Linked DNA regions of Homo sapiens. The protein of the gene in region 1 purifies or fractionates together with the protein of each later gene. This does not show direct contact. Each region holds a gene or a part of one and is shown on either strand. Other genes may lie near its edges. The genes, in order: PLEKHS1 and PBLD.

The links.
Region 2: the proteins of PLEKHS1 (region 1) and PBLD purify together in Homo sapiens (affinity purification with mass spectrometry; 2 studies listed by BioGRID and IntAct, with this or other methods). This does not show direct contact.

What each region holds. Positions count from the first base shown.
Region 1 is NC_000010.11:113,753,043-113,764,184, reverse strand, and holds part of PLEKHS1 (pleckstrin homology domain-containing family S member 1), read right to left. Parts: intron 8,927-11,142; 5' UTR 8,908-8,926; coding exon 8,880-8,907; exon of another isoform or gene 8,780-8,879; intron 1-8,779.
Region 2 is NC_000010.11:68,287,929-68,294,928, reverse strand, and holds part of PBLD (phenazine biosynthesis-like domain-containing protein), read left to right. Parts: intron 1-2,690; coding exon 2,691-2,800; intron 2,801-2,889; coding exon 2,890-2,919; intron 2,920-5,851; coding exon of another isoform or gene 5,852-5,909; coding exon 5,910-5,998; intron 5,999-6,267; coding exon 6,268-6,446; intron 6,447-7,000.

The DNA.
Region 1 (11,142 bases):
AGGTTGCAGTGAGCCGAGATAGCGCCACTGCACTCCAGCCTGGGCGATAGAGTGAGACTCCATCTCAAAACAAACAAACAAACAAGCAAACTATATTTAAAGTACTGAAAAAATACTCTCATTCAAAATTCTATATTCAGCAAAAATGTCTTTTAAAAATGAAGGCAATTTAAAGACTTTTTAGATATATAAAGGCTGAAATAATTCATCATTAGGAGGCTTGCAGTATAAAAAATGTGAAGGGAAGTCCAGGAAGAAGGGAAATGATAACATAAAAATCTGAATTTAAACAAATTGAAAGCACTGAAATGGTAACTACTGGGGTAAATGTATGAAATTATTTTCTTATTATTGAAAACATTAAAACATTAACTGAACAAAAATAAAGACAATGTATTGTGCAGATTATAACATATGTACAAGTAAAATGCATTCCAACAGTAGCATAAAGGCCAATAGGGAAAAATGGAAATACGCTTTTGTAAAGTTCTTTTATTATATGTGAATTGGTATACTATCACTTGAAGTTAGACTGTGATGTGTATAAACCCTAAAGCAATCACTAAAATAACAAAACAGAAAGTAATGACTAATAAGCCAACAAAGGAGATAAAATGGATTCATAAAAAATTCGATTATTCCAAAAGAAGGCAGAAAAGGGGGAAAGGGAGAACAAACAACAAATAGGACAAACAGAAAATAAATAACAATATGATACATTTAAACCTGACTATATCAGTAATTATGTTAAACGTAAATGGTCTAAACACCTCAATTAAAAAACAGAGATGACCAGATTGGATAAAAAAGCAAGACTCAACTCTATGCTGCCTGTAAGAAACACACTTTAAAGATGAAGATACAAGTGGGTTACAAGGAAATAACTGGAAAAAAAGATATGCTATGCCAACGCTAGTCAAAGAAAGCTGGAGTGCCTATATTAACATCAATGTAGATTTTAAAGCAAATAATATTACCAAGGACAAAGAATATCATTTCATAATAAAGGGATGAATTAATCCTAAGAGGACATAAAAATTTAAACATATATGCCCTTATAACATAGCTTCAAAATACATGAAGCAAAAACTGATAGAACTGCATGAATAAATGGACACATCCGCAATTATAGAGATTTCAATATCCCTCTCTCAAGAACTGATAGAACAAATAGTGCTAAAATTGATTTTTTAAATTTTGGATGCATTTTTAATGTTTTAAATAATAAGTTTGCTAAGAGTTTTCATTCAAGAAGAGTAATGCTGGCCTCATAGAATGAGTAGAGAAATATTCCCTTCTCTTCAATTTTGTAGAAAATCAGCAAGAATACAGTAGGCTTGAACAACACTACCAACCAACTTTAACTGATTGATATTTATAGAACATTCCACTCAATGACAATAGAGTATACATTCTTCTCAAGGGCACATGCAACATTTATTAATATAGATGTATTCTGGGCCATAAAACAAGTCTCAATAAATTTAAAAGCATTCAAATCATATAAATCATGTTTTCAGAGCACTATGAAATCAAATTATAAATCAATAACAGACCTCTTAAAAGATCCTGAAATAAATAATCTCTAAATTTAAAAAATCCCAAAAATAAATTAGAAAGTTTTTTGAACTGGATGAAAATTAAAACACAAGGTATCAGAATTTGTGGATGCCACTAAAGCAGTACTTAGGGAAAAATTTTTTAATGGCTATGTTAGAAATGGCCATGTTTGAAAAGAACAAAAGTCTCAAATTAATTACCTCAGCTTCCACCTGAAACGTTTCAGGAAACTAAACTGAAAAAAAAAAAAAAAAAAAAAGGAACAAATCTAAAGTCAATAGAGGAAGGGAGATAATAAAGATAAAAGTGGAATTCAATGAAAGAGAACACAGAAAAACAACAGAGACAACCAATGAAACCAAAGTTAATCCATTAAAAAGATTAAGTTAACAAACCTCTACCTAGGCAGATAGACCAGAAAAACTGGAGAGAAAACACAATTTGCCAATATTAGGAGGAGAGAGGGGACATATCTACAGAGTCTACTGATATTAAAAGGATAATAAAGAAATATTATAGACAACTTTATTCCAATAAATTTGGCAACTTAGGTAAACTGAAAAATTCCTTGAACTACACCAACAAAGGTCACTGAAGAAGAAATAGATAACCTGAATAGCCTCCTATAGTTATTAAAGAAATTGGAGTTGTAGTTAAAAATTCTTCATATAGGCCCAAGTGGCTGTACTGTTCTCTTTGATCAAACATGTAAGCAAGAAATAATCAATTCTACACAAAGCCTCCCAAAAAAATTGAAGAGAAGGGAATATTTCTCAACTCATTCTATGAGGCTAGCATTACTCTTCTTGATTGAAAACTCTTAGCAAACTTATTTAAAACATTAAAAAATGCATCCAAAATAAGTAAAAATAAATAAAACATCCAAATGGAAAAGAATGAAATAAAATCATTTCTATTTGCAAGTGACATAATCTCATATGTTAAAAATCCCAAAGAATCCCCAAAAACTACTAGAGCTAATAAATTCAGCAGTATTCAAGAACAACAGACAAAAATTAGCTATATTTCTATAAACCAGCAATAAATAATCCAAAAATAAAATTATGAAAACAGTTCCATTTACAATAGCATCCAAAAGAAAAAAGTACCTAGGGTTAAATTTAACTAGGCAGATAAAAAGACTGGTACACTGCAAACTAGAAAAATTGCTGAAATAAAGAGACATAAATTAATGGGAAAACATTCCATATTTATGAATTGAAAGACTTAATACTGTTAAGATATAAATACTACCTAAAGCAATCTATAAATTCAATGCAATCTCTATTAAAATCCCAATGGCATTTTTTATCTTGTAAAACTAGAAAAGCTAATCCTCAAAATCATCAAAAATACCAAGGGGCCCTGAATATCCAAAATAATCTTCAAGAAGAACAAAGAGTACACACACTTCCCAATTTCAAAACTTACTACAAAGCTACAATAATCAAGAGTGTCGTTTTGGTATAAGGACAGATAAGACACATAGGCCAATGGAATAGAATTCAGAGTCCAGAAACAAACCCATACATTAGTGGTCACGGCCATTCAATGGGGAGAGAACAGTCTTTTCAATAAATGGTGCTGGGCCAACTGAGTATTCACATGCAAAAGAATGAATTTGGACCCCTATGTCATCCCAAATAATGAAGTTAACTCAAATAAATGACCTTAACATGAGAGCTAAAACCATAAAACTTTTAGTAGAAAACATAGGTGTAAATTTTTATAATCTTGGATTTGACAATGTATTCTTAGATATGATACCAAAAGCACAAGCAACAAACAAAAAAGATAAACTAGACTTCATCAAAATTAAAAACTTTTGTGCATCAAAGGATATTATTAAGAAAGTGAAAAGACTACCTACAGAATGGGATAAAATATTCAAAAATCATATATCTGACCAGGGCCTACTATCCAGAATATATAAAGAACTCTTACAATGCAACACAAAAAGACAAACAACTCAACTAAAAAGTGAACAAAGAACTTGAACAGACATTCTTCTAAAGAAAATAAGCAAATAGCCAATAAGCACAAGAAAAGCTGTGCAATACATTTAGTCATTAAGGAAATGTAGATCAAAATTAAAATAAGAAACCACTTCATGCTCACTAGGATGGCTATAACTTTTTTCTTTTTTTTTTGAGATGTAGCCCAGGTTGGTCTGGAACTCATGTGCTCAAGCAATACTACTGCCTTGGCCTCCCAAAGTACTGGGATTATAGGCGTGAGCCACCACACCTGGCCCATTCTACTCTTAAGTAAAGGAATATACAAATACAAAAGCTGGTCATGAATGTTGATAGCAGCTTTATTTGTAATAGCCAAAGACTGGAAGCAACCCTGATGTTCATCAACAGGTGAAAGGATTAACACATTGTGATACATCTATACAATGGAATACTATATGGGAATAAAAAGAAACAAACTATTGACAGATGCAACGACATGGGTAAATCTCAAGATAATTATGCTGAGTGAAAAAGATGTCAGACAGAAAGTGTTCATACTGCATGATTATATAAAGTTCTATACAAACTAACATATAGGGATAGAAAGCAGATCAGGGGTTGTCTGGGGAAGTATGACTGCATGGAAGAGTGGGAGGCAGGGGACCAAGAAAACTTGTGAGGTTGATGAATATGCTTATTATCCTGATTTAGGTGATAATTTTATGGCTGTGTACATTTGCCAAAACTTATTAAATTGTAGACTTTAAACATGTCAGCCTACTGTATGTCAATTATACCTCAATAAAGCTTTTTAAAAAATCTAACAAATTTGAATGAAAAGTAAGCATACTCCAACCATATGACCCAGCCATTTTGATTCTAGGTAAAATAAAGAAATATATGATTTTACAAAAATTAATGCACAAATGTTCATATTAGCTTTATAATAGGCGAAGACTGGAAGCAACCTGGATATTCAACAGGTGAATGAATCAACAAATTGTAGTACATCCATATAATGGAATACTACTCATCAAAAAAATGAACTATTTTTGCACTATTGGTGCACTCAATACCAGGGATATATTTTTAAAAAATTATGCTGAGTGAAAAAAGTCAGACAAAAGGGTGTATGCTGTATGATTCCATTTATGTTAAACTCTAATAAATACAAACAAACTTACAGTGAGAGAAAACAGAACAATGGGGACTGGGATTGGGTGTGCAGAAAAGGATTACAAACAGGCACAAGAAAACATCAAGAGTGATGAGTGTGTTTACTATTACCCAGGCTGGAGTGCAGTGGTATGATCTTGGCTCACTGCAACCTCTGCCTCCCAGTTCAGGTGATTCTCTTGCCTCAGCCTCCTGAGTAGCTGGGATTACAGGTGCCGGCCATCACACCTGGCTAATATTTGTATTTTTAGTAGAGATGGGGCTTCACCATGTTGGCCAGGCTGGTCTTGAACTCCTGACCTCAAGTGATCTGCCCACCTCAGCCTTCCAAAGTGCTAGGATTACAGGCGTGAGCCACCGCACCCGGCCACATTTACCATCTTGATGATTTCCCAGGTGTCACACATATCAAATACAGGCAGACCTCATTTTGTTGCACTTCACTTTATTGTGCTTTGCATATATTGCTTTTTTTTTTATTTACAAATTGAAGGTTTATGGCAACCCTGCACTGAGCAAGTCTACTGGGACCATTTTTTCAAGAGCATATGCTTACTTAGTGTCTCTGTGTCACATTTTGGCAATTCTTGCAATATCTCAAACATTTTCATCATCATCATATCTATTAGAGTGACCAGCAATGAGTGATCTTTGAGTAATTGTTTTGGGACAGTATGAATGGTGCCCATATAAGATGGTGAACTTCAAAAATGTTGTGTGTGTTCTGATTGCTCCACTGACTGGCTATTCCCCCATCTCTCTCCTCTCCTTGGACCTCCCTATTCAATGAGACTCAACAATATTGAAATTAGGCCAATTAATAACTTTACAATGGCCTCTAAGTGAAGGCGAGTGTCAAGTGAAAGGTGAGTTACATGTCTCTCACTTTCAATTAAAAGCTAGAAAATCCTAAGGCCCTTAAGAATTATACTAAATCTACTCTACTTGTGCTCTATCAGTGCAACAACAAAGCCTGGGTGACAGCATATCTGTTTATAACATGGTTTAATGAATATTTCTAGAAGCCCACTGCAGAGACCTGCTACTTAGAAAAAAAAAGATTCCTTTCAAAATATTACTGATCATTGACAATACACCTGGTCACCCAAGAGCTCTGATGGAGATGTACAAGGAGACTAATGCTGTTTACATGCCTGCTAACACAACATCTATTCTGTAGCCCCTAGATCAAGGAGTAATTTCAACTTTTAAGTCTTATTATTTAAGAAATACATTTCATAAGGCTATAGCTGTTGTAGATCGTGATTCCTCTGATGGATCTGGGCAAAGTTAATTGAAAACCTTCTGGAAAGGATTCACCATTCTAGATGTCATAAAAATATTCATGATTCCTAGAAGGAGGTCAAAATATCAACATCAACAGGAGTCTGGAGGAAGTGGATTCCAATACTCCTCGATGACTTTGAGGGGTTCAAAACTTCCTTCAGTGGAGGAAGTCACTGCAGATGTGGTGAAAATAACAAGAGAACTAGAATTAGAAGTGAACCCTGAAGATGTGACTGAATTGCTGCAATCTCATGATCAAACTTCAACAGATGAGGAGCTGCTTCTTACGGGATATGAAAAGAAAGTGTTTTCTTGAGATGGAATCTACAGCTGGTGAACATGCTGTTTATTTTTGAAATCACAATAAAGGATTTAAAATATTACATAAACTTAGTTGATAAATCAGTGTCAGGGTTTGAGAGGATTGATTTCAATTTTGAAAGAAGTTCCACTGTGGATAAAATGTTATCAAACAGCACCACTTGCTACAGAGAAATTTTTCATGAAAGTACAATCAATCGATGTGGTCAACTTCATTGTTGTCTTATTTTAAGAAATTGCCACAGCCAGCGCATCTTCAGCAACAACCTGCCTGATTACTCAGCAGCCGTCAACATCGAGGCAAGACCCTCTGCCAGCAAAAAGATTGTGACTCACTGAAGGCTCAGATAATTGTTAGCAAATCTTAGCAATAAAATATCTTTAATTAAGGTATGCAAATTATTTACTTAGACATAATGCTATTACACACTCGACTACAGTATAGTGTACGCATAGCTTTTATGGAATCCAATAAATTCATGTGACTAGCTTTATTGTGATATTTGCTTGGTTGTATTGGCATGGAAACAAACTTGAAATATCTCTGAGGTGTGCTTGTATATGTTTCATATCAAAACTTCTATCAAATTGTACACTTTAGATATATAATAGCTTATTGTATGCCAATTACAATAAACTACAATAAAGCTATTAAAAATATGGCCAATCAGCCAACAGTGCGGTGCTCATGCCTGTAATCCCAGCACTTTGGGAGGCCAAGGCGGGTGGATCACGAGGTCAGGCGTTCAAGACCAGCCTGGCCACGATGGTGAAACCCTGTATCTACTAAAAACACACAAAAAAATGAGCCAGGCATGGTGGCAGGCGCCTCCTAGCTACTCGGGAGGCTGAGGCAGATAATTGCTTGAACCCGGGAGGCAGAGGTTGCAGTGAGTTGAGATCGCACCACTGCACTCCAGCCTGAGCGACAGAGTGAGACTCCGTCTCAAAAAAAAAAAAAAAAAAAAAGACCAATCTAAAATGTGGATCTGACCATGCCACTTCCATGCTCAAAATGCTTCAACAGTTACTTGTCATACGCGGTCAAGGTCTGGCACAATTTGGCAACACCTTTCTGCAGCCTCATCCTCTATTTTCCCTTCTCCTACCTTATAAGTATATTCTGCTTTGACACATTCTGCTTCTATACCATTTCATTGCTTTGGTCATGCCATTCCTTCTGCTGGAATGTGCTCTTTTTTCTGATTTCTTTAAAATCCCTACTCCTCCTATAGGGTCTAGCTCAAATGCCTTTCCTGTAAAACCTCTCTGGATTCTCATTACTACTTACATGCTTTTTCTTCTTCAGACTCCATAGCATTTGTACTTATTTCATGATTTCCATCACAGCCTAATCTTAATTTCCCAGCACAGTGACTTGCATGTGTTTAAGTTCTTGACAAGAATTTATTTTATTTTTTTGAGACAGAGTCTCGCTCTGTTACCCAGTCTGGAGTGCAGTGGTGCGATCTTGGCTCTCTGCAACCTCTGCCTCCCAGGTTCAAGCGGTTCTCCTGCCTCAGCCTCTTGATTAGCTGGGATTACAGGCGCACCACGCCCAGCAAATTTTTGTATTTTTAATAGAGACGAGGTTTCACCATGTTGGCCAAGCTGGCCTCAAACTCCTGATCTCAAGTGATCCACCTGCCTCAGCCTCCCACCAACAACATTTTAAAACTCTTTGAGGGCAATGACTCTTATTTATTAATCTGTATATCCCCTGCAACATAAAGCACAAAGACTCACTAGTAATAGGTGCTTTGTAAACATTTTTGAGTTGAATTGGATAATTTAACTTCTAAGTGACTTCATCCTAAACTTAGCTTTTCTATCCACTCATCTACAAAGAAGTGTATGAATAAGAGCAAGGATACTTGATACCATACATTGAGCTACCCTCATAATAAGCCCTGGTGACAATGCAGGCACTTCTCTAAGTGTGAGTTTCACGTAAAATTAAGAAAATGTTCTCCAGTCTTTGCTGGCCCATAGTTTGCTATTAACATCATCTTTGGGCAATGAATGGAAAATTTGGCTCATGAAAATCAGAAAATGCTAAACTTCTAGACAGGTAAACTCTTACACAATAATTAATTGAATCCAACAGTTCCTGCTACATTCTCCAAACCAAGAATCATTGTCACAGAATGCCACCCATTATCCCCACCTGGGTTCTGGGGCTGTACATGGTGGCTTATGCCTGTAATCTCAGCACTTTGGGAGGCTGAGAGGTGGGGAATCACCTAGGCCGGGAGTTTGAGACCAGCCTGACCAACATGGAGAAACCCCGTCTCTACTAAAAATACGAAAATTAGGCAGGCATGGTGGCATATGCCTGTAGTGCCAGCTCCTCGGGAGGCTGAGGTTAGAGGATCACTTGAGCTGGCAGGTTGCAGTGAGCTTAGATCGTGCCACTGTACTCCAGCCTACGCAACAGAGCAAGACTGTCTCAAACAAAACAAAACAAAACAACATACACAAAAACCACCAAGTTCTGTATCCTGGTTAGCTTGAAGGAAACCGTGGGGCATTTTCAATAAAAAGATTTCTGCTTCTGCGATTATACCCCTCGGGTACCTGGACTCTTCTGAGGTTTGGGTTCCATGATGGCTGTGTGTCCTCCCCTGTCAAAAGGAAGGGTTAGTGTTAGTCCCCAAACAACACTACGTGTGTTTCATTGACCAGCCACCGCTGGTCAGTGAGTATCAGGATTGTGCTCACGAATGTTGCTGAGATGGGTTGTGAGTCTCCCATTCCCATCCTTTCTTTAGTATTTCCCTCCCTGTTCCTGAGGCTGACGGTAGCTGCAGTAACGGGGACACATCTAAGCAGCTTGTCCTCACACAGTGGGTGGTTCTGCGGAGGTGTTGTTGAGAAGACTGAAGGAGCTTGTCTTCCTGGGATTTTCTCTGTTCTTACTGCTTTGATAAGAGAGCTGGCGGATGGCAACACAAAGGAGAGATAAGAACAGGGCAAAGGGCAGGATGCCATGGAGCCAACGTAGCCGAGAAAGCATCACTGGCTGAGAGGAAGCCCAAGATAAGCCTTTCTCCATGCCCAGGGGCTTGCTTTCTCCAGGGGAAACTTAAGAACAAGGACCGCCAGGCACGGTGGCTCATGCCTGTAATCCCAGCACTTTGGGAGGCTGAGGCGGGTAGATCATGAGGTCAGGAGTTCGAGACCAGCCTGACCAACATGGTGAAACCCCATCTCTACTAAAAATACAAAAATTAGCCGGGTGTGGTGGTGGGCACCTGTAATCCTAGTGCTCGCCTGTAATCCCTCAGGAGGCTGAGGTAGGAGAGTCGCTTGAACCCGGGAGGCGGAGGTTGCAGTGAGCCGAGATCACTCCACTGCACTCCAGCCTGGGCGACAGAGCAAGACTCCTGAGGATAACCTGGAGAAACTGAATCTGAGAGGCAGCATCCTTTCCTGGCCAGCTGCTGGCGATCCTATGACCATCATAGGATGGAGAGAAGGGACTCCCTCAGGGGAAGGGCTGCAGGGCAAGTGAGGTCTTTGAAACCACAAATTTGGTATGACTAACTTTTACCTTAAGTTAGTAAGACTCTCAAAATAGAAGGCCCTGAAAAGGGAGGTGCCCAAGCAGCCCCAAGTAAGATGGGGGAGGAAGCAGAGGCCCTTGACCCTCCTGACCTCTCCCTTTCTTCAACATAAACTCATTCTTCCTTCCTAACATGTAGATGACTTACAGCAATTCTTTAATTACGTGTGTGTATATGCATATACAGAGATGAAAAAATACATATATTCAGGCTGGGTGCAGTGGCTCATGCCTGTAATCCCAGTACTTTGGGAGGTTGAGGTGGGCGGATTGTTTGAGGTCAGGAATTCCAGACCAGCCTGGCCAACATGGCAAAACCCCATCTCTACTAAAAGTACAAAAATTGGCCGAGCGTGGTGGCGGGCACCTGTAATCCCAGCTACTTGGGAGGCTGAGGCAGAAGAATCACATGAACCCAGAAGGCAGAGGTAGTGAGCCGAGATCACATTACTGCACTCCAGCCTGCGTGATAGAGCAAGACTCCATCTCAAATAAAAAAAATATATAATACAAATATATATATATATGTGTTCAGAGATGAAAATCCTAAGATTAAGACAAGTTCTAAGATATGCTTTTGGTGGTTTGTCAGAGCATTTGGAAGCTCTTTGAAGACCAGTGGGATGGCTTTCCTGGACCCTGGAATCATACCTACCCTGCCCCTAGGGAAAGATTTTCTCCCTTGAGGTATCCTGTATAATCACAGTAGTGATCATTTGAACAAATTACAACTTTTCTCGGGCATCTGAAGGCATATGTTGAAGAACCGGTGCCCTTAGCCCTCGCCTGCTGTAGCGGGCACACTCAGCTCTGTGCAATGAGCTATAATGCCTGGGAAAGATGCCAAGCTATTGAGGCCGAAGGCTGTTGTTTCCTGGAAGAGCAATTCTGTGTGAGAAAGAGAACGTAACCTCTTCAAAACCTTGCCCACTCCCCAAAATGCATGGATAATATTTAAAAAATTATCCCTGAGATTTCTTATCAAATCCATGAGGTTCTTTCCAGTTTCAAGGATTTCACTGCCTGAAGAGCTGGGGACAAGCGGTTTTCAACCCATCACCTTTCCCTCTGTCCATGTTTATAGGACTTGGCCACGCCCCCTATGCAGCTGTTAGCCTAATGAGTGATGGCCCTCAAGGATCCAATCGGAGAAATGTGCAGGAGAGATTAGCTGTGGGTGGCATATTTTAAAGCAGTGTTTACTGCAAGCTGTTTTTGAGCTGCTGTTTGTCAAAAAGCCAAAAAATCATTTTAAAAAATATTTCTAAAGCCTTT
Region 2 (7,000 bases), about 45 Mb from region 1:
GGGCAAAACCCCGTCTCTACTAAAAATACAAAAATTAGCTGAGCATGGTGGCGGGCGCCGGTAGTCCCAGCTACTCAGGAGGCTAAGGCAGGAGAATCGCTTGAACCTGGGAGGCCGTGGTTGCAGTGAGCCGAGATTGTGCCATTGCACTCCAGCCTGGGCGACAGAGCGAGACTCCACCTCGAGGAAAAGAAGAAAAAGAAAGTAGGATTGAATAGAGGGAGAAATTGAACTGCAGAGTAGTAGCAACAAGGAAAGGCCTAGGCCAAATCCGTGGGGAGCTCTAAAGCTGGACATTTTTTCAAGTAGTATAGTTCCAAGTAGAGGCAAAGATTCAGGCCTTTTTACCCTCCATGGACCAGTTCCCAAAGCCTGGAAAAGATGTATGACTTTGGGCAAGGTAGCTCTACTCAGCCAAAGGTAACTCCAAGAGAGTGACTCAGTTGAGAGCTGTTGGCCACTAGCACTCTGGGCAAGCAGGGTCAGGGCCAGGTGTAGGCAGAGCCAGCAAGGCCCCAGGTTGCAGCTGAGAGCAGGTGTCTCCTTACATTTTGTACCCTATGGTACTTCCTTGCCTCATGGAGTCCCAGTCCTGAGGCCATGGGTCAGACATAGAATATGGATCAGCACCCACCAGAGAAGGGGAACTTTGGGCGAAAGGATAAGATGAAGCATCTGTGGGATGAGCTAGAGCGAGAGGAGGAGCATCCCAGGCAGAGGCTAACAAGTGCAAAGTCCCTGGGGCCTGTCTATATGATTGGCAGGAGATAAAGTTGAGAAGCCATATAATGTAATTCAATATACATTTTAAAAAGATGATTTTGGTATCTGTGGATAGGGGACATGTGCAAAAGGCAAGCAAACATTCCGAAATGTTTAGGAATTGAGTCTTGAAAAATAGGGTTTACTGAAATTAAATTGAGTGTCTTTTGTTTTTTTGTTTTTGTTTTTTTGAGATGGAGTTTTGCTCTTGTCACCCAGGCTGGAGTGCAATGGCAAGATCTTGGCTCACTGCAACCTCTGCCTCCTGTGTTTAAGTGATTTTCCTGCCTCAGCCTCCCAAGTAGCTGGGATTACAGGTGCCTGCCACCACGCCTGGCTAATTTTTGTATTTTTAGTAGAGATGGGGTTTTACCATGTTGGCCAAGCTGGTCTCAAACTCCTGACTTCGGGTGAACCACCCGCCTCGGCCTCCCAAAGCAAGATTGAGTGTCTTTTGAAAACTGGACTCCACGTGGGTTGGTTTGATGCTGAGGTTTGGAATAATAACATCCTGGAAACCCCCATAGGGCAGTCTTCAGGTTAGATAAGATAAGGTATGAAAAAATGCTTTGTAAATAATGTCTTATGCAAATCGTAATGAGAAAAATTAAGCTTTGTGTTTCTGAATGTCAATTTTATGCTCAATAAAAGTTAACAAGCCAAAGTTCTTCACCTTTGACATGTGGTTTAAGTTTTACAGAAATATTAAGGGAGAGAAAAGAATTGGGTCAGCATTCTTTGTTTTCACTAAAAATGTTATACACACTGATAAGTAGCCCAAGTTGTATCAGTAACATGGGATGCCAACATTTGTGGTGCATTCTTTAAATTACATTGTTATGTAAAAAGTTTGGTTCATTTAGGATAAACCAAATTTATTTCATATAACACTGATATTTACAACTTAAATGTTTTGTTATTCCCTTGGCGTATCTTAGACTAGAAGAGGTTATGACTCTATGGTTGTTGCTGCTGGATATTTTAAAATCTGTATTAGAAACATTACAGGCTGGGTGCAGTGGTTCATGCCTGTAATCCCAACACTTTGGGAGCCAAGGCGGGAGGATTGCTTCAGTCTAGAACTTAGAGACCAGCCTGAGCAACATAGTGAGACCCTGTCTTTACAAAATATTTAAAAATTATCCAGGCATTATGGCTCATGCCTGTAGTCCCAGCTACTGGGGAGGCTGAGGTGGGAGGATTGCTTGAGCTCAGGAGGTCAAGGCTGCAGTGAGCCAGTCCCCAGCCTGGTCAACAGAGTGAGACAGTTCCTCAAAGAAAGAGAAAACATTATAAATGGTAGGTTTAATGTATTAACCTCATTTTATAGATGAGGAAACTGAGATTTAAGGAGGCTGGCCAGGTGTGGTGGCTCACGCCTGTAATCCCAGCATTTTGGGAGGCCGAGGTGGGTGTATCACTTGAGGTCAGGAGTTTGAGACCAGCCTGACCAACATGATAAAACCTCGTCTCTACTAAAAATACAAAAATTAGCTGGATGTGATGGTGCACACCTGTAATTCCAGCTTCTTGGGAGGCTGAGGTGGGAGAATCACTTGAATGTGGGAGGCAGAGGGTACAGTGAGCTGAGATCGTGCCACTGCACTCCAGCCTGGGCAACACAGTGAGACCATGTCTCAAGAAAAAAAAAAAAGGAGGCTAAGTTAGTAAGGGCACAGTAAGCAGTAAAGAGCTGGGATCTGAAGCCTTGAAGTATGACGCCACATCTGATCAGTTATGTTCTTGGTTCTCAAGTTAGAATCTAGTGAGAGTTTTCTCCATTCTAGACCTCAGCAACCCAAACCTCGCTCCATCATAGAAAAGGATGACAGTGCCAGAAAATCTAAGACAATGCAAAGGTGTTTGAAATGGACATGCGCATATATGACAAAGTTTATTTCCTATTTCTTGATTCCTATTTTGGCCAGAAAACATGAATAGCACGCTCACGTTTGTCACTCTGAGTGGAGAACTAAGGGCCAGACGAGCAGAGGATGGCATCGTCCTGGACTTGCCTCTTTATCCAGCCCACCCCCAGGTCAGCTCTTTGTAATTATTGCCCTAAGCCATCTACAACCGACAGCTCTCCTGTTTTATAATAATTTTGTTTTTTTTCCCCCCATCTAGGACTTCCATGAAGTAGAGGACTTGATAAAGGTTGGTAAAAAGAATCAAACCTGAGCCTAGTTATTTGTTATTGTTTGCACACAAAGATTTGGTATCATTTGATCCACAAAGATAGGCATTTTACCAATATAAATGTTACAGTGTTTCAGGTTTGAATTTTAATATTCAGTCTATTTGGTGAGAAGGTTGACCAGTTTTCCTTGGCTCCTGATTGTCACTGCTGGCCCCCATGGTAGGATGGAGGGAAGAGACACTGTTATATGACAGGCTGAAAGGCACAAAAGAACCAATGGAGGTGGTAAAGAAGAGGGAGAATAGGATGTCTTAAGGAAATGTAAGTTTCTGGGAGGAGACCAGCCTTTAGGGAAATTAAGGGATGTTGAATTTCTGTGCTTCTCTAGCTAGAAGGAGAGGAATGGGCCCCGAGCATGGCTGTGCAAGTTCAGGTGTGAAAGTTGGGAATTTCTGGCAGAAAGAGGTCATTCCATAAAATCCATACACACAAGATGGAGGGAAAAAATGGAACCTTCCTGGCAGCTGTCAGTGTCCCCAGTTTCTGTAGTAAAGGATGGGACTGAGGTGGGGGAGGGCTGTGCTTTGATAGAGGAAACCAAGAAAGCATGAGTACCTTGCAGATAAGACAAGATACAGAACATGGGCTCCTCATGGGGTCTGTGTGGGCATGGGGCTTAATAATATTAATGATGATGAAACATTTTGAGAGTCTCTCTGTGTGCAGTGCCACATGCTGAGCATTTCACTTGCATTGTCCATTTAATTCTCAATGTTTCTCAGTAAGGTAGGCACTGCAGTTGTCCCATGAAGGTTCTGCAGGGCCAGAGCAGCCCTGGATGACCAGGGGCTTGGTGTGTAGAGAAGAGAGGGCCCAGGTCAGGACCAGGGCAAGGGCTGTCATGAGAAAAATGATTCTGTAGCTTAGTCTATTGTGAGTACTACTTGGGTATTTCTCAGTGAATTTTTAACTACAGCATTTGTAGTCTCTAGTATTTGGCTTTATCTGTGTTTTCAAAGAATATAAACAAATAAGCATGATGGATTCTGATTTTATACTCAACCCCATCCATGGCTTGGGTTTTGGAGACAAGCCAAATTTAAAAACAAACTGCTTTAAACATACTGGTAAGAAAGTGGAAAAAACTTATAATGGTAGACCTTGTTCATGGTAGAAAGAACTCAACTTAGTCTCAGGGTCAGCATTTATTAAATGGGATAACAAAGGGTTGTAAGTATTGCCATTTTGTGTTCTTCCCTAGAAACTGGCAGTAAGATTCCCAGCCAAGAATTAAACCTTTTTTTTTATTTGAGACGGAGTTTGCTCTTGTTGCCCAGGTTGGAGTGCAATGGTGTGATCTTGGCTCACCACAACCTTCACCTCCTGGGTTCTAGCAATTCTCCTGCCTCAGCCTCGCAAGTAGCTGAGATTACAGGCATGCGCCACCATGCCTGGCTAATTTTGTATTTTTAGTGGAGACGGGGTGTCTCCATGTTGGTCAGGCTGGTCTCGAACTCCTGAGCTCAGGTGATCCGCCTGCCTCGGCCTCCCAAAGAGCTGGGATTACAGGTGTGAGCCACCGCGCCCACCCCTGAACTTTTAAATCAATGTACAAACTCATGCAGATAAGGGCTGGGTTCGAGAGACTAAGGCTCTGGAGAACAGATGGGATCCGGCTGTAGGAGTTCCCATTTCTTGAGGAAGTTACATTGGTCAGCCCATAGTCACAGAGGCAGAAAGCCCAAGTACCACCCAAGGCAGAAGGAATTCTGGATGTGGGAACTGGAGTATCTTGGCCTCTAACAAGGATTAGAGAACCTGAAGCCACCTAGTGACTGCCATACAATTACCATGTAATTACCATCTGCTGGGCCTGGCAGCTGGGGCTGGTGCCAAAGGATGACTTGGTGGTGTGGGAAGGGGTTGTCTCCTCATAATCCCCCTCTGCCCCAAGCCACCCTCAAACAAACATACAAACAAATGATGTTCCTGGATTTCAGCAAGATTATGTGCAGTCAGGTAGAGTGAACCAGGGTATCTTGAGAACATGTTATGTTATTGATCTGTCACATACAATCTGAGTGAAAGTGGTGTGCTTGCCAAGCAGAGCAGCACAGGACGAGCCCTCTAGTCCCTCCTTCCAATCAAGCTGCTAGCCCTGAGTGCTTGCCGTGTGGAACGTTCTAATTGCTGCTGCAGATACTCCACATATACGATTTTATTTAATCCTCACAGCTCTAAGAGGTGGACATGAGGCCCCTCCATCTCTAAAGATGATGGACAGTAGGGATTTAGAGCTTTTTCTCTGACCTTCTCAGACCTGGGTCAAGATATGTGTGTGTGTGTGTGTGTGTGTGTGTGTGATCTTTGGCCTTTCTAAGTCTCTTTCTCCTTCTCTGTGGGGAGAATACCTACTTGAAGGAGTTGTGCATTGAGGCACATAGTAGGCACTTGTGAGAATGCCTATGTTTTTTTTCTTTTTTGAGACAGAGTCTCATTCTGTCTCTCAGGCTGGAGTGCAGTGGTGCGATCTCGGCCAAGTGATTCTTGGCTCACAAGTGATTCTTGGTTCACCAGGTTCAAGTGATTCTCTTGCCTCAGCCTCCCGAGTAGCTGAGATTACAGGAGTGCACCACCATGCCCGACTAATTTTTGTATTTTAGTAGAGATGGGGTTTTGCCATGCTGGCCAGCCTGGTCTCGAGCTCCTGACCTCAGGTGATCCACCTACCTCAGCCTCCCAAAGTGCTGGGATTACAGGTGTGAGCCACTGCACCTGGCCACAATGCCTGTTTTGAGGCTCACAGAGGCCTCTTTGGTAGCCAGGAGACTGACCATCCTTGGGCAACACCTTAAGCTCTGAAACTGCACTAACACTCTTGGGGACTGGAGACGATGGGCATGCTTGGCTCACAGTGGATGCTCAATGAGAGGTCATTTCCCATTTCAGGGGATCAAGGACTTGGCCCAGGGCATGTCCCTGAGGAGTTTTTGGTCTGTCTCCACAGACTGCCATAGGCAACACACTGGTCCAGGACATCTGTTATTCTCCAGATACCCAAAAGCTCCTCGTCCGCCTCAGTGACGTTTACAACAGGTAAGATTTTTGGCTGCATCAGCACTTTGGGGAGGGCTGAGTACCCAGATTTATAGCTCTTCCTTAGTCTGGCTGTGCTGTGTCCAGTCAAACCATGATTTACGCAGCCAGAGTGTTTCTTTCCCTGATAGGAAGACATTCCCACTTGTTCTTCCTTCCCCTCCTGTTAAGCTCTTTGAGCAAGCTGCACCCTGGCCTGCTTCACAGAGTCTGTGTGGTGAGTGGGCTGTGAAATGGGTTTGTCCTAATCCATCTTGTTTATGAACAAGGTCGTTTCTGGAGAACCTGAAAGTGAACACGGAGAATCTGCTGCAAGTTGAAAACACAGGGAAGGTGAAAGGGCTTATTCTTACCCTTAAAGGAGAGCCTGGTGGGCAGACCCAAGCATTTGACTTTTACTCAAGATATTTTGCACCGTGGGTTGGTGTGGCTGAAGACCCAGTGACAGGTACTTTTTACTTGAGCCCAGGGGAGGGTTAAACAATGGAAGAGGAGGATCACAAATAGTTATTTAAGTGCACTTCCTGTGACCTTTCAGGTGGCTTGAGTTTTGAGCTGCCTTGTTCCTCTATCTTTCCCCATCCCTGCCATCCCTTCACTGAAGTCTTCCATGAAAAACATAAAATAGAGCAGGTGGATAACAGGGTTAAACCTGAGTGTCAGACAGCCTGGGTTTACATTCCTAGCTTCCTAGCTTTTGACCTTGGGCAAGTGACTTGACTTTTAAAAGTCTCAGTTCCCTCCTCTATAAATTGTATATAATACCTCATAGGGCTATAAAAGCACAATGCATGTTAAGGGCTTAATACAGTGCCTGGCACCTAGTAAGTGCCCAATAACTACTAGCTATTATATTGTATTATTATATCTTTTTGAGACATAGTCTCACTTCATCACCCAGGCTAGAACGGAGTGGCATGATCCCGGCTCACTGCAACCTCAGCCTCCCAGGTTCAAGTGATTCTCCTGCCTTGGCCTCCCCAGTAGCTGGAACTACAGGCG